2 separate regions of the Homo sapiens genome follow, and region 2 is linked to region 1. A link means that fine-mapping ties the variant in region 1 to the expression of a gene that starts in the linked region. Tissue or cell type: aorta. Region 1 holds a variant in brackets; the other region holds the start of a gene. All regions are shown on one strand. Distances are between the middles of the regions.

What was found. PIP is the estimated chance that this variant, and not a neighbour inherited with it, causes the effect.
Region 2: it holds the start of ZFAT, and the variant in region 1 is fine-mapped to the expression of ZFAT in aorta (GTEx, PIP 0.98).

The regions. Positions count from the first base shown.
Region 1 is chr8:134,185,470-134,191,401 of GRCh38, forward strand. No RefSeq gene overlaps it. Among named protein-coding and RNA genes, the nearest start is that of LINC03024, 500 kb to the left of the region's middle. The variant A/C (reference allele first, on the strand shown) is at 2,563.
Region 2 is chr8:134,710,265-134,714,847 of GRCh38, forward strand. ZFAT (zinc finger and AT-hook domain containing) reads right to left here and starts at 2,767. Exons shown (of 16, transcript NM_020863.4): 1 at 2,581-2,767. The coding sequence starts at 2,599. RefSeq lists an enhancer at 2,599-2,778.

The DNA.
Region 1 (5,932 bases):
TCTTTCTGTCTTTCTCCATATGTTTTCAGAGTCATAAATCATGTCAGGTGCTGAAAATACAGAGGCGAAGAAAAGCTGTCCTTGCCCTTGACATGTTAAATATCTAGCAAGGAAGGCTTCCAAGATCTTAAATCAGAGGCAAGTATCTTAACTTAGAGACAAATAATGCTGAGTATTATAAAATGACCAAGAAACTTGCCTTTGATGTCAGAAGACCTGAAGGTTTCTGTACAAGTAGGTGGGGGAAGGGAGGATCTAAAGAGGTTTCTGAAAGGCATGGGAATAAGATTTTAGAAGAAACTTGTGGAAAGGAAGCATCCCAGGCTCAGGAGGTAAGTTAAGTCCTAGACTTTTGAAAGCAGAGATTTATATGGCGAATGGCAACTGAAACATTCTCCAAAGCACAATGGTCTTACTAGGGAGCCACCTGTGAAGTGCACAATGCCCAGCTGTTTCTAGTTCCTGACATCAGTCACGGACACAGTCTGGTGCTGGGAGGGGCTCATCCACAGGATAGGCCGTGACACATTAACCCAGAAACTGCTTGGTTTTAGGTGAAATAAGCCAGACCTTAATCATTCCATTTGATAATGGCTTCCTAATACTAGAAGTTCTCTTTTAAAACTGTGACCCATTTCACAATTTACAAATAATTTTAAAGTGTTACCCCCTCCCTCTCCTTGGGGGATATGTAGTGTTATACCTGCTTTACAGATGAGGAATGCATAGCCCAGCAACCATACATCCAAGAGGGCCATGTGGAAACACAATCCAGAAGTTGGCAGAAGGGTCCAGGACAGCTGGTGAAATGGTGGTGCACCCTGATAGTTTGGGCATGGTTGAAGTTAGCAATTTAAAAGATGGTGCATTGTGGAGAGGAGCAGCTGTCAAAATTCAAAGGAAGATGATCTACCTTTAAAGAACAGTGATCCCTCGGCTCTAGATCAGAATAAAAGCCCAGGTTTTAGGTTTACTTCATATGGGAGAGAAATCCTAAGGGAAAATGAACTAAAATATCAGCAAGGTAGTCCTCAACCTTAGTTGTAATGCCCTGAAGAGCATGAAGGAAGAAAATGGAAGAATGCCCTCTTAAGACAATTTTAAACATAGCCATTTTTTAGCATTGCTCCAAGACAAAAGCAGAAGGGCCATTGAAATAAATCTCTAGGTTTTTATACTCTCATGATTATCCAGGGTGGGACAAGAAAGCCAGTTAACAGCATGTTGAAAGGTCACTGCAAAAATACAGAGTCGACTCAGTTTTTCTTTCTTATGTTTACCATTTTGTCTCATTTATTTCCCTTTGTTATGTCAAGGCCAAAATTCTAACTGCAAGCTTTCTTCTCAACCTGCTCCATCTCCCATGTTCCTTCTTAAGCAACCTGCTTATTTTCTTTCTGCTAGGTAATGTATAAAGAATTGCCTCTTACCAATGTGAGTCCTTCATGTTAAACTCACAGTTAACTATTGGATCTCAGGCATCAAAGGGGCATTAAAAGTTTACCTCGCATAGTCACTCACCCAGTGATTGGCATGTGTCTATACCATCCTTGACAGATTGTCTGATAAAACTATACTTGGACAGCTACAGTGATAGGAAACACATTTCTAACTAAGTCTTCGTGTTCCCTCACTGGGCAGCTATTTATTACTAGAAATCTCGGCCTCCTGAATCCCATAGAGCAAGTCTGTCTTTACTTTGGCTTGAAGATCTTTCAAATAAATGATGTAATGCTATCTCTCTCCAACTCTGGAACAAAGTATTAAAAATCTCCCTCAGATTGAACATTCCCACTTCTTCCAACTGTTCTTATATGACATGTTTTAGGTTGTTCTCCACCTCACATTATATGAGTCACTCTATCCAAAATGGATCTCAGTTAAAAAGCTCAATAAGCCAAGTGGGTTCTGACATCACATTAACAGAATATAACTGCTAGTTCTTTATCATTTTTGCCTTTATAAGGTAATTTTTTAAAATATTGAACCTGGGTAAAAGTCAGTGTATCTATAGTAAACATATATTCTTTCCTTTCCCGACAACCATTCTCATTGTGAGGCAATGGGCCCATTTGTTATTTGGAGATGCCTGCTCCCCAATTCTCATTCCACGTTGTTTGAGTCAGGTCTGCTCCAGTCCCACAGAAGGAGCAGGGACATGCCTACACCAGTCAGCAGGTCACAGTAATTGGCTCGACAGTGGACCCTTGACTTCAGTCAGTGAGATCAGAGTGGACTGAATAACTTCAACTGAGTGTATTTCAGGTGGCCATTTTTATGCTTGATTTAAGCTTAGAAAAGATGCAGCCTAGATGCCATATTGAGCCAATTGGTGACTCTGAGACCTATTGGAAAATGGAGTCAGCATAGAGGAAGCAGAGCGAAGATACAGAGAGAAGATAAACCACAACCTGGTGGTATTGCTGAAGCATTGGAGCAAGCATATTTGAAGTCGGATGGATTCCTAGGTACTTGAGTTGTATACAGCAGTACATTCCCTTTTGTAGTCAAGTCAATTTCAATCCGTTTTTTAAAAAAATTTACACCAAAAGAATACTAATT[A/C]ATAAAAGATAATAGTACAGTCAAGAACTTAAGAAAGAATCTTAAAGATTCTTTGTGTTGGTTCTGATGCAAGTTTATAGGCAATTTTCTGGGCCTGTTCAGCCATCAATAAAATGAATACCTTCATGTCCATTATCAGAGGAAATCCACACGGCTTCTCCAAAGATGCTTTCAAGGACACTTCTAAAACATTAATATAGACATATGAATGACAGAAATTAATCCTGTTGCTCCTTGTTGATTTTGAAGATGCACATGGAGGCAACAGTGGGCTGACTCTCAAGACCTGGACAATAAAACTGCTGTACCCTTAAAGCATACCGGGGAAGCCAACACATAATATGCTCATAGAAAATTTATGTTAAATGAACAAATGAATGACTAATTTATCCTAGTTATACCATTTTTCCAAACCTAGATCTTTGGAACTAATACATATTCAAGGACAGAAACATGAATAAGATATGGTCTCACCCACAGCCATCATGAGAGAGAGTTTCATGTGGTACTTACCTGACGGTTCCGATGGTAACCACATGGATGGTCTTAAGGAGGGGCAGTGCCCTGGCAAAGAGGTCATTGAGAAGACCAAAACACAGGTATCCACGATGCACAAAAACCACACCTAGGATGCACCGTTTTTCCAAAGCCCACTTTCGCTTCCCAACCCTGTCCTACATCCAATACCATACAAGACTCAGACAAGCAATGGAGTCCCTTAAGAAGGTGGAGGGCTCCTCACAAGTCCTATAAAAGCATCATCTACCTGCTGTTGCAAAGCTGCTGGCCTAGTGTGAGGCAGAGCAAGTCTCCCTGGAAAATTGCATCAGCTTACTCTGACTTAGAGGACTTAATGCATTTTTACAAATGGAAATAATAAACCCTCAGGAAATATTATGAAAATGAACCTGTAAACACTGAAATTGAATCTAATCATGAACAAGTCATAGCTTAGACTAATGAAGAATAAATTATGCTGAAATACGAACAAAATTTGTCCTTCAGTCTGATGGGGAAAAGGTGTCAGTAGGAGGCAAAACCCACACATGACTTTGGACTACAAGATATAATTTGATGAGCCACTGCAAAACTCATCTCTAAACAGACTTATTTGGCTGTAAGTATAGGTCAACCACTAGAGCTAGAAAATAATCAAACCATATAACCTTTGCAGGAGCTACATTTCTTGCTCAAAACCTTTCTCATTTTTTTTCTCTCTTATTCACTCTTTTCTGCTCAGGAAGCATGTAGGTTTGCTAATTCCTTGGGATACATTTCATCCAGACTTTATGATCTATAGGTCACCATTTTTTCCCCAGTCATATTGCTGATAACAATTTTGAATTTTCAAACCAGGTCTTTTTTTTTTTTTTAACCATTTGATGAGCTTTTATGAATGGATCCACCCATATAAACATCATAGCATTCAGAAAATAGAATATTTTCATCACTCCATAAAGCTCCTTTACAATGCTTTGCTGAAAATTTCATACCCCTCTTCCCTGCCTTCCAGACAAACACTGAATGCATTACTTTTTCACTTTCTTTTTTTTGTTTATTATTATTATTATTATACTTTAAGTTTTAGGGTACATGTGCACAATGTGCAGGTTAGTTACATATGTATACATGTGCCATGCTGGTGTGCTGCACCCACTAACTCGTCATCTAGCATTAGGTATATCTCCCAGTGCTATCCCTCCCCCCTCCCCCCAACCCACAACAGTCCCCAGAGTGTGATGTTTCCCTTCCTGTGTCCATGTGTTCTCATTGTTCAATTCCCACCTAGGAGTGAGAATATGCGGTGTTTGGTTTTTTGTTCTTGCGATAGTTTACTGAGAATGATGATTTCCAATTTCATCCATGTCCCTACAAAGGACATGAACTCATCATTTTTATGGCTGCATAGTATTCCATGGTGTATATGTGCCACATTTTCTTAATCCAGTCTATCATTGTTGGACATTTGGGTTGGTTCCAAGTCTTTGCTATTGTGAATAATGCCGCAATAAACATACGTGTGCATGTGTCTTTATAGCAGCATGATTTATAGTCCTTTGGGTATATACCCAGTAATGGGATGGCTGGGTCAAATGGTATTTCTAGTTCTAGATCCCTGAGGAATCACCACACTGACTTCCATAGTGGTTGAACTAGTTTACAGTCCCACCAACAGTGTAAAAGTGTTCCTATTTCTCCACATCCTCTCCAGCACCTGTTGTTTCCTGACTTTTTAATGATTGCCATTCTAACTGGTGTGAGATGGTATCTCATTGTGGTTTTGATTTGCGTTTCTTTGATGGCCAGCGATGGTGAGCATTTTTTCATGTGTTTTTTGGCTGCATAAATGTCTTCTTTTGAGAAGTGTCTGTTCATGTCCTTTGCCCACTTTTTGATGGGGTTGTTTGTTTTTTTCTTGTAAATTTGTTTGAATTCATTGTAGATTCTGGATATTAGCCCTTTGTCAGATGAGTAGGTTGCGAAAATTTTCTCCCATTTTGTAGGTTGCCTGTTCACTCTGATGGTAGTTTCTTTTGCTGTGCAGAAGCTCTTTAGTTTAATTAGATCCCATTTGTCAATTTTGGCTTTTGTTGCCATTGCTTTTGGTGTTTTAGACATGAAGTCCTTGCCCATGCCTATGTCCTGAATGGTAATGCCTAGGTTTTCTTCTAGGGTTTTTATGGTTTTAGGTCAAACGTTTAAGTCTTTAATCCATCTTGAATTGATTTTTGTATAAGGTGTAAGGAAGGGATCCAGTTTCAGCTTTCTACATATGGCTAGCCAGTTTTCCCAGCACCATTTATTAAATCGGGAATCCTTTCCCCATTGCTTGTTTTTCTCAGGTTTGTCAAAGACCAGATAGTTGTAGATATGCAGCATTATTTCTGAGGGCTCTGTTCTGTTCCATTGATCTATATCTCTGTTTTGGTACCAGTACCATGCTGTTTTGGTTACTGTAGCCTTGTAGTATAGTTTGAAGTCAGGTAGCATGATGCCTCCAGCTTTGTTCTTTTAGCTCAGGATTGACTTGGCGATGCGGGCTCTTTTTTGGGGCCATATGAACTTTAAGGTAGTTTTTTCCAATTCTGTGAAGAAAGGCATTGGTAGCTTAATGGGGATGGCATTGAATCTGTAAATTACCTTGGGCAGTATGGCCATTTTCATGATATTGATTCTTCCTACCCATGAGCATGGAATGTTCTTCCATTTGTTTGTATCCTCTTTTATTTCCTTGAGCAGTGGTTTGTAGTTCTCCTTGAAGATCAAACCAGGTCTTTATTACTTTCTCATTACCACAACATCTTTTATTTCTACTTGAATTGCAGATTCCATTTTGTGACATCATCTCTTCGTCTAGTTGTTGGCATTA
Region 2 (4,583 bases), 520 kb after region 1:
GGAAGGAAGGGCCCTCATGCAAGTATGCCTATGACAGGAACTATGCCAGGAATTCCTTAGAGCCTGTTACTTGCACAGGACACTTGCCTGGTGCACCTGTCTCCAATGGACTAATGCCAGCTCCTGCAATAAACCTCTGAAACCAATGGTCTTTGTTTCAAAACCGCTTAGGTGGACTTCCCTTTTGGGTCTTTAAAAGTTTCCATTTGCCCCAACTTCTTTGGACGTACCTATGATCCAGCATAGCGCATGTATCTAAATTGCAATCCCCTATTATTCCCAAATAAACTACAGTTTCAGGATCCCATATCCAAAATGCTTGGGACCAGAAGTTTTAGAATTCCAGATGTTTTTGGATTTTGGAATATTTGCATATACATAGTGAGATAACCTGAGGATGGGACCCAAGTCTAAACATGAAATTTATTTATGTTTGATGTGCACCTTATACACACAGTCTGAAGGTAATTTTACAATATTTTTAATTTTGATCATGAAACAAAGTGTACAATGAACCATCAGAAAGCAAAGGTGTCACTATCTCAGCCACACATATGGGCAATCTGTGGTTGTCTGGCATCGCCATCATTCCCGACTCTGAATTTCTATGCTACCAATAAGACAATCACTTTCTTACATTTATTTACACATAAGTCCTTACCAGTAAAAAATATGACACACCATTAATACAGTGAAAAACAAGGTGTTCAAGGTACCTAAGCGGCACAGCAGCATCACCAGAACACATGCATCAGCTGCTAAACAACAGAACAATAAACAACGGCTGGCTTTAAGTCTGCTGTTCAGCCTGCATTTCTTTCTGAGTGTTAACAGCATCGTCTTTACAGTTGTGCAACTGTTGTTTTGTTTTGTTTTTTGAGAAAAATAGAGATGGGGTTTCACTACACTGCCCAGGCTGGTCTTGAACTCCTGGACTCAAGGGACCCTCCCGCCTCAGACTCCCAGAGTGCTGGGATTACAGGCGTGAGCTACTGCGCCCGGCTATGGAACTGCATTTCTGCTGAGAACCTTCACGAGGTCAGATAGAAAATTTTCCACTGTGGCCTCATGTCAGTGCTCAAAGTTTCAGACTTTGGAGCATTTCCGATTTCGGATTTTTGGATTAGGGATGCTCAACCTGTATTTGGAGAGCAAGTCTCTCCGGTGCTCATTTTAGGCTAACCTAAGACAGCACACCTGAATCAGCTGGGCACCACAGCTAATCAGCGCACCTGTGGTCACAGCTACTTGGCAGGCTGAGGCGGGAGGTTTACCTGAGGGCGGGAGGCAGAGGTTGCAGTGACCCGAGATTGCACCATTGCACCCCGGCCTGAGTGATAGTGCGGGACTCTGTCCCAAAAAATTAAAAAAATTAAATTAAAAAAAAGCACGCCTGATATAGTTCGGGTCTCCTGACCCAATATTCGGCTCTGGGCCCACTCTGTCACTCCAGGACACATTCTCCCACATCTAGCACCGCAGCAGGTGGAGGCAGGACTACGACTGGGACTGCTCTTTACCCCTGCCTGGCGTGCAGAGGGGATCCTTGCAAAGCTGTTATTTGAACTAAAGTCAGGAAAGGTGTCCCTGGGGGTTAGAGGTAGGACACGCTACTTCCTTCAGCATGGGGACACACACTACAGATGTTTCAGTAGATGAACTGGTAGGCTCGGAAGATAAAGCTGGTGAGAGGCAGCTGTGCGGGGCATCTCCAAAAGGTCACTTGGACTCCAGCAAAAAAAGCCAGACTGATGGGCAGGCGTGATCAGTTAGCGCGTTCGTTCTTTCATTCACTAAGTATATAGTGAACACTTACATGAGCCAAGCCCTATTCTAAGAAGATGGAGGTACAAGTCAGGCGAGCACGCAGGAGTTTGGATTTTAGCCCAAGTTGGAGGAAGTTAATTTTTAAAGCCCCAGCTCTGTCGTTTTTAAACTGTGTAAAGTTGACCTCTCTGAACTTCTGTTCCTCATAATAAATGACCTACAAATTAGAGTTCTCAAGAGAGCTGAGCAGCAAAACGTGTTAAGTCAGTGCCCAAATGTGGAAGCTTGTGGTAATTACAGGTGAAGGACCCCAAGCTCAAGGTTAAATGACTTGCACCGGGTGTCAAGTGGAAGATCTGTCACTCTATTAGGTCCAGCCGGCGGCCGGGAAGCCTGCAGGAGGTACTCATTTCGCCAAGGAGGAATCCGAGGCCAGGCAAGAAGGAAGCCCCGCCAAGGTCCAGTCAAAGAGCTGGCATCGCCGGGATTCGAACCTCGCGCCCACTGCGTTCCGTCGCTGGCCCGCGCCCCAACGCCACCCATTGCCGTGGAAACGGCCGGGCGCATGCTCTCCCACTCGCTCCCGCCTTGCTTTTTTTTTTTTTTTGCGGCGGGATACCCCAGCGACTGAACGTGAGCCGCAGAACGCAACTACGTTCGCTCTCCTCCCCAGACCCGGATCCCTCCGCGGCCGGCGGCCGGCGGCCGGCGGCCGGCGCACTGCTTCCCGACTCGACGCTCGAAACGGCTTTCCGCGCGCCGCGCCGCGCCCCACCCCCACCCCGTCTCACCCCAACCCCCAGCCCGGCTCACCTGCCGCCCGCGTCTCCATGGCAACGCCCCACCGCGGAGGAAAAAAAAGCCTCGGGCTCTTCCGGGCCCCCTCCCGTGCCGACCGAGGGGGCGGGGCGCCCTGCTGACGCTTCGCTTTTTATTTTTATTTTTTTAAGAAAAGAGCCGGCGAGGTTATGGCGAATCTGCGGCATCCAACATGGCGGATGGAGTCTTCGCCCTCCTCCCCACGGGGCGCAGACGCCTGCGTAGCGGACGTCCGCTTCGGGTGACCCTCCCCCGGCGCCGAGCGCGGCCCGGCAGGGCCGAGCTAACGCGCATGCTCGCAGTCGGAGGCCGTGCTTTTTATCCCACTTCACGGATTCCGCTGCGCCGCGTTTTGAGCCACGCCCAGGGAGGGGCCCTCGGGAGGTCCGGAGCGCGGATCTCGGGGTCAGGAGTCTGGCGGTTGTGCCAGGCCTCTGCTAGCGCGACCCTAGACCCGCGGCATGTGGGGCCGCCGAGCTGGGCGTGCAAGGAGAGTTCTGGGTGCGCTTCGTGTCCCAGCTCTACCTCTCACTACCTAACTTGGGGCAGCGAATTAACTTTTCTTGCTCTCAGTTTACTGATGTGTCCATCGGGGTGCTCCCAACCTGCATCCCGCTCAAAGCTGCGGCGTTTCCCGAAGCGTGGGGTGCTTTCCTTTGGGCCACCCGGCTGGGTTTTAGGGGCTACAGAGCACTGAGCGGCCTACGATCACACGTGACAAGGCGACTTCCTCCTCTCTCGTCTCTTTTTGTCCCACAACAAGTCTGCACTGGATGTGCGCGCCTCCAACACCCGCTCATTCATTTCTCTGCTTGTGGCACAGCCTTCGGCAGGCAGCTGAGTCTGGTGGAAATTTAATGACTTTGTTTTTGGTTTTGATGTTAAGGTGTTTAGCTCCAACACTGTAGTCCTCGGCTCAAATGATATCTTCCAGCCCCTAACCCTCACCCCCCGAAACCCATCTAAAGTAACCCTCCAAGACACTTCATATTTTCTACGTAGCATCCATTCCTATCTGTCATTATCTCCCTCCCTTACCTCTGTCAATGGTCACCCCGTTAGCCTCAGAAACAAACTGAGCCTGACAGTTATTTATTTCATGAGTAATGAGTTGATGTGGTCCATGTTCTAAGGTCATTTTCTGTTCATGACAAATAACGTTTTTCACTTACAGTAGTCATATAAAGTTTTTAAATTGTTCGTTTACATTTTCAAAAATCAGTCAACTTAAAATGGTGTACATGCTGCAAAGACATGCCCCCCCCCCCCCAAAAAAAAAAAGTGTAAAAGCAGACTTCAGGAGACTGAAGTTTGGGAAACTGATTTGTGTTCATGGTTCCCCTGAAATGCTAGTCTTTGCCTGTTCTTCTTTTCCTGGAATAACCCTCTTTGGTTGCTGCTCAACATGAAATTCTCGGACAGCCCTGAAGTTCACACTTCATGTTCCCACAGCTCTGGTCTCACTGGCCTAGCTCCATCCCCCACTTCTCTGTTTGCACAGCGTTCATCCTCACTAGACTGAGCTTCCTGAGCAGCCCTTATAGGTCCTTTTCATCTTGTTTTCTCAGCGCCTGTTGCATAGTCATATTACTGAATGAACACTTCGTTCTGGGGTCACTTATTTTTTAGGAGGAAAACTCCCTTGGGCATTGAGCTTCAGGATGACTCATCTGATTTCTCAGGAGACTGCCCGCCTGCTCCTTAACCCTGTTCTTGGGAAATACGGAACCATGAAAAGACCCTAAAGTTGTCCAGTCTGTTAAATATATGCTCACAGATATAGCCTCCCCCTTCTTCATTTCATCCTCGCAATCTGGAAGGTTAAGTTGGGCAATATGATTATTGTCCTTTTCCAGATGAGAAAATGGAATGTTCAGAGTGGTCAAATGGCTTTCTGAGATTACACAGCAAAATAGTGAAGAGCCAGGTGTGGATCTCGCCTCTCCATGCCCAGTGTTCCTCTCCCCACCACATCTAAAATGTACCCAAACTGCCCC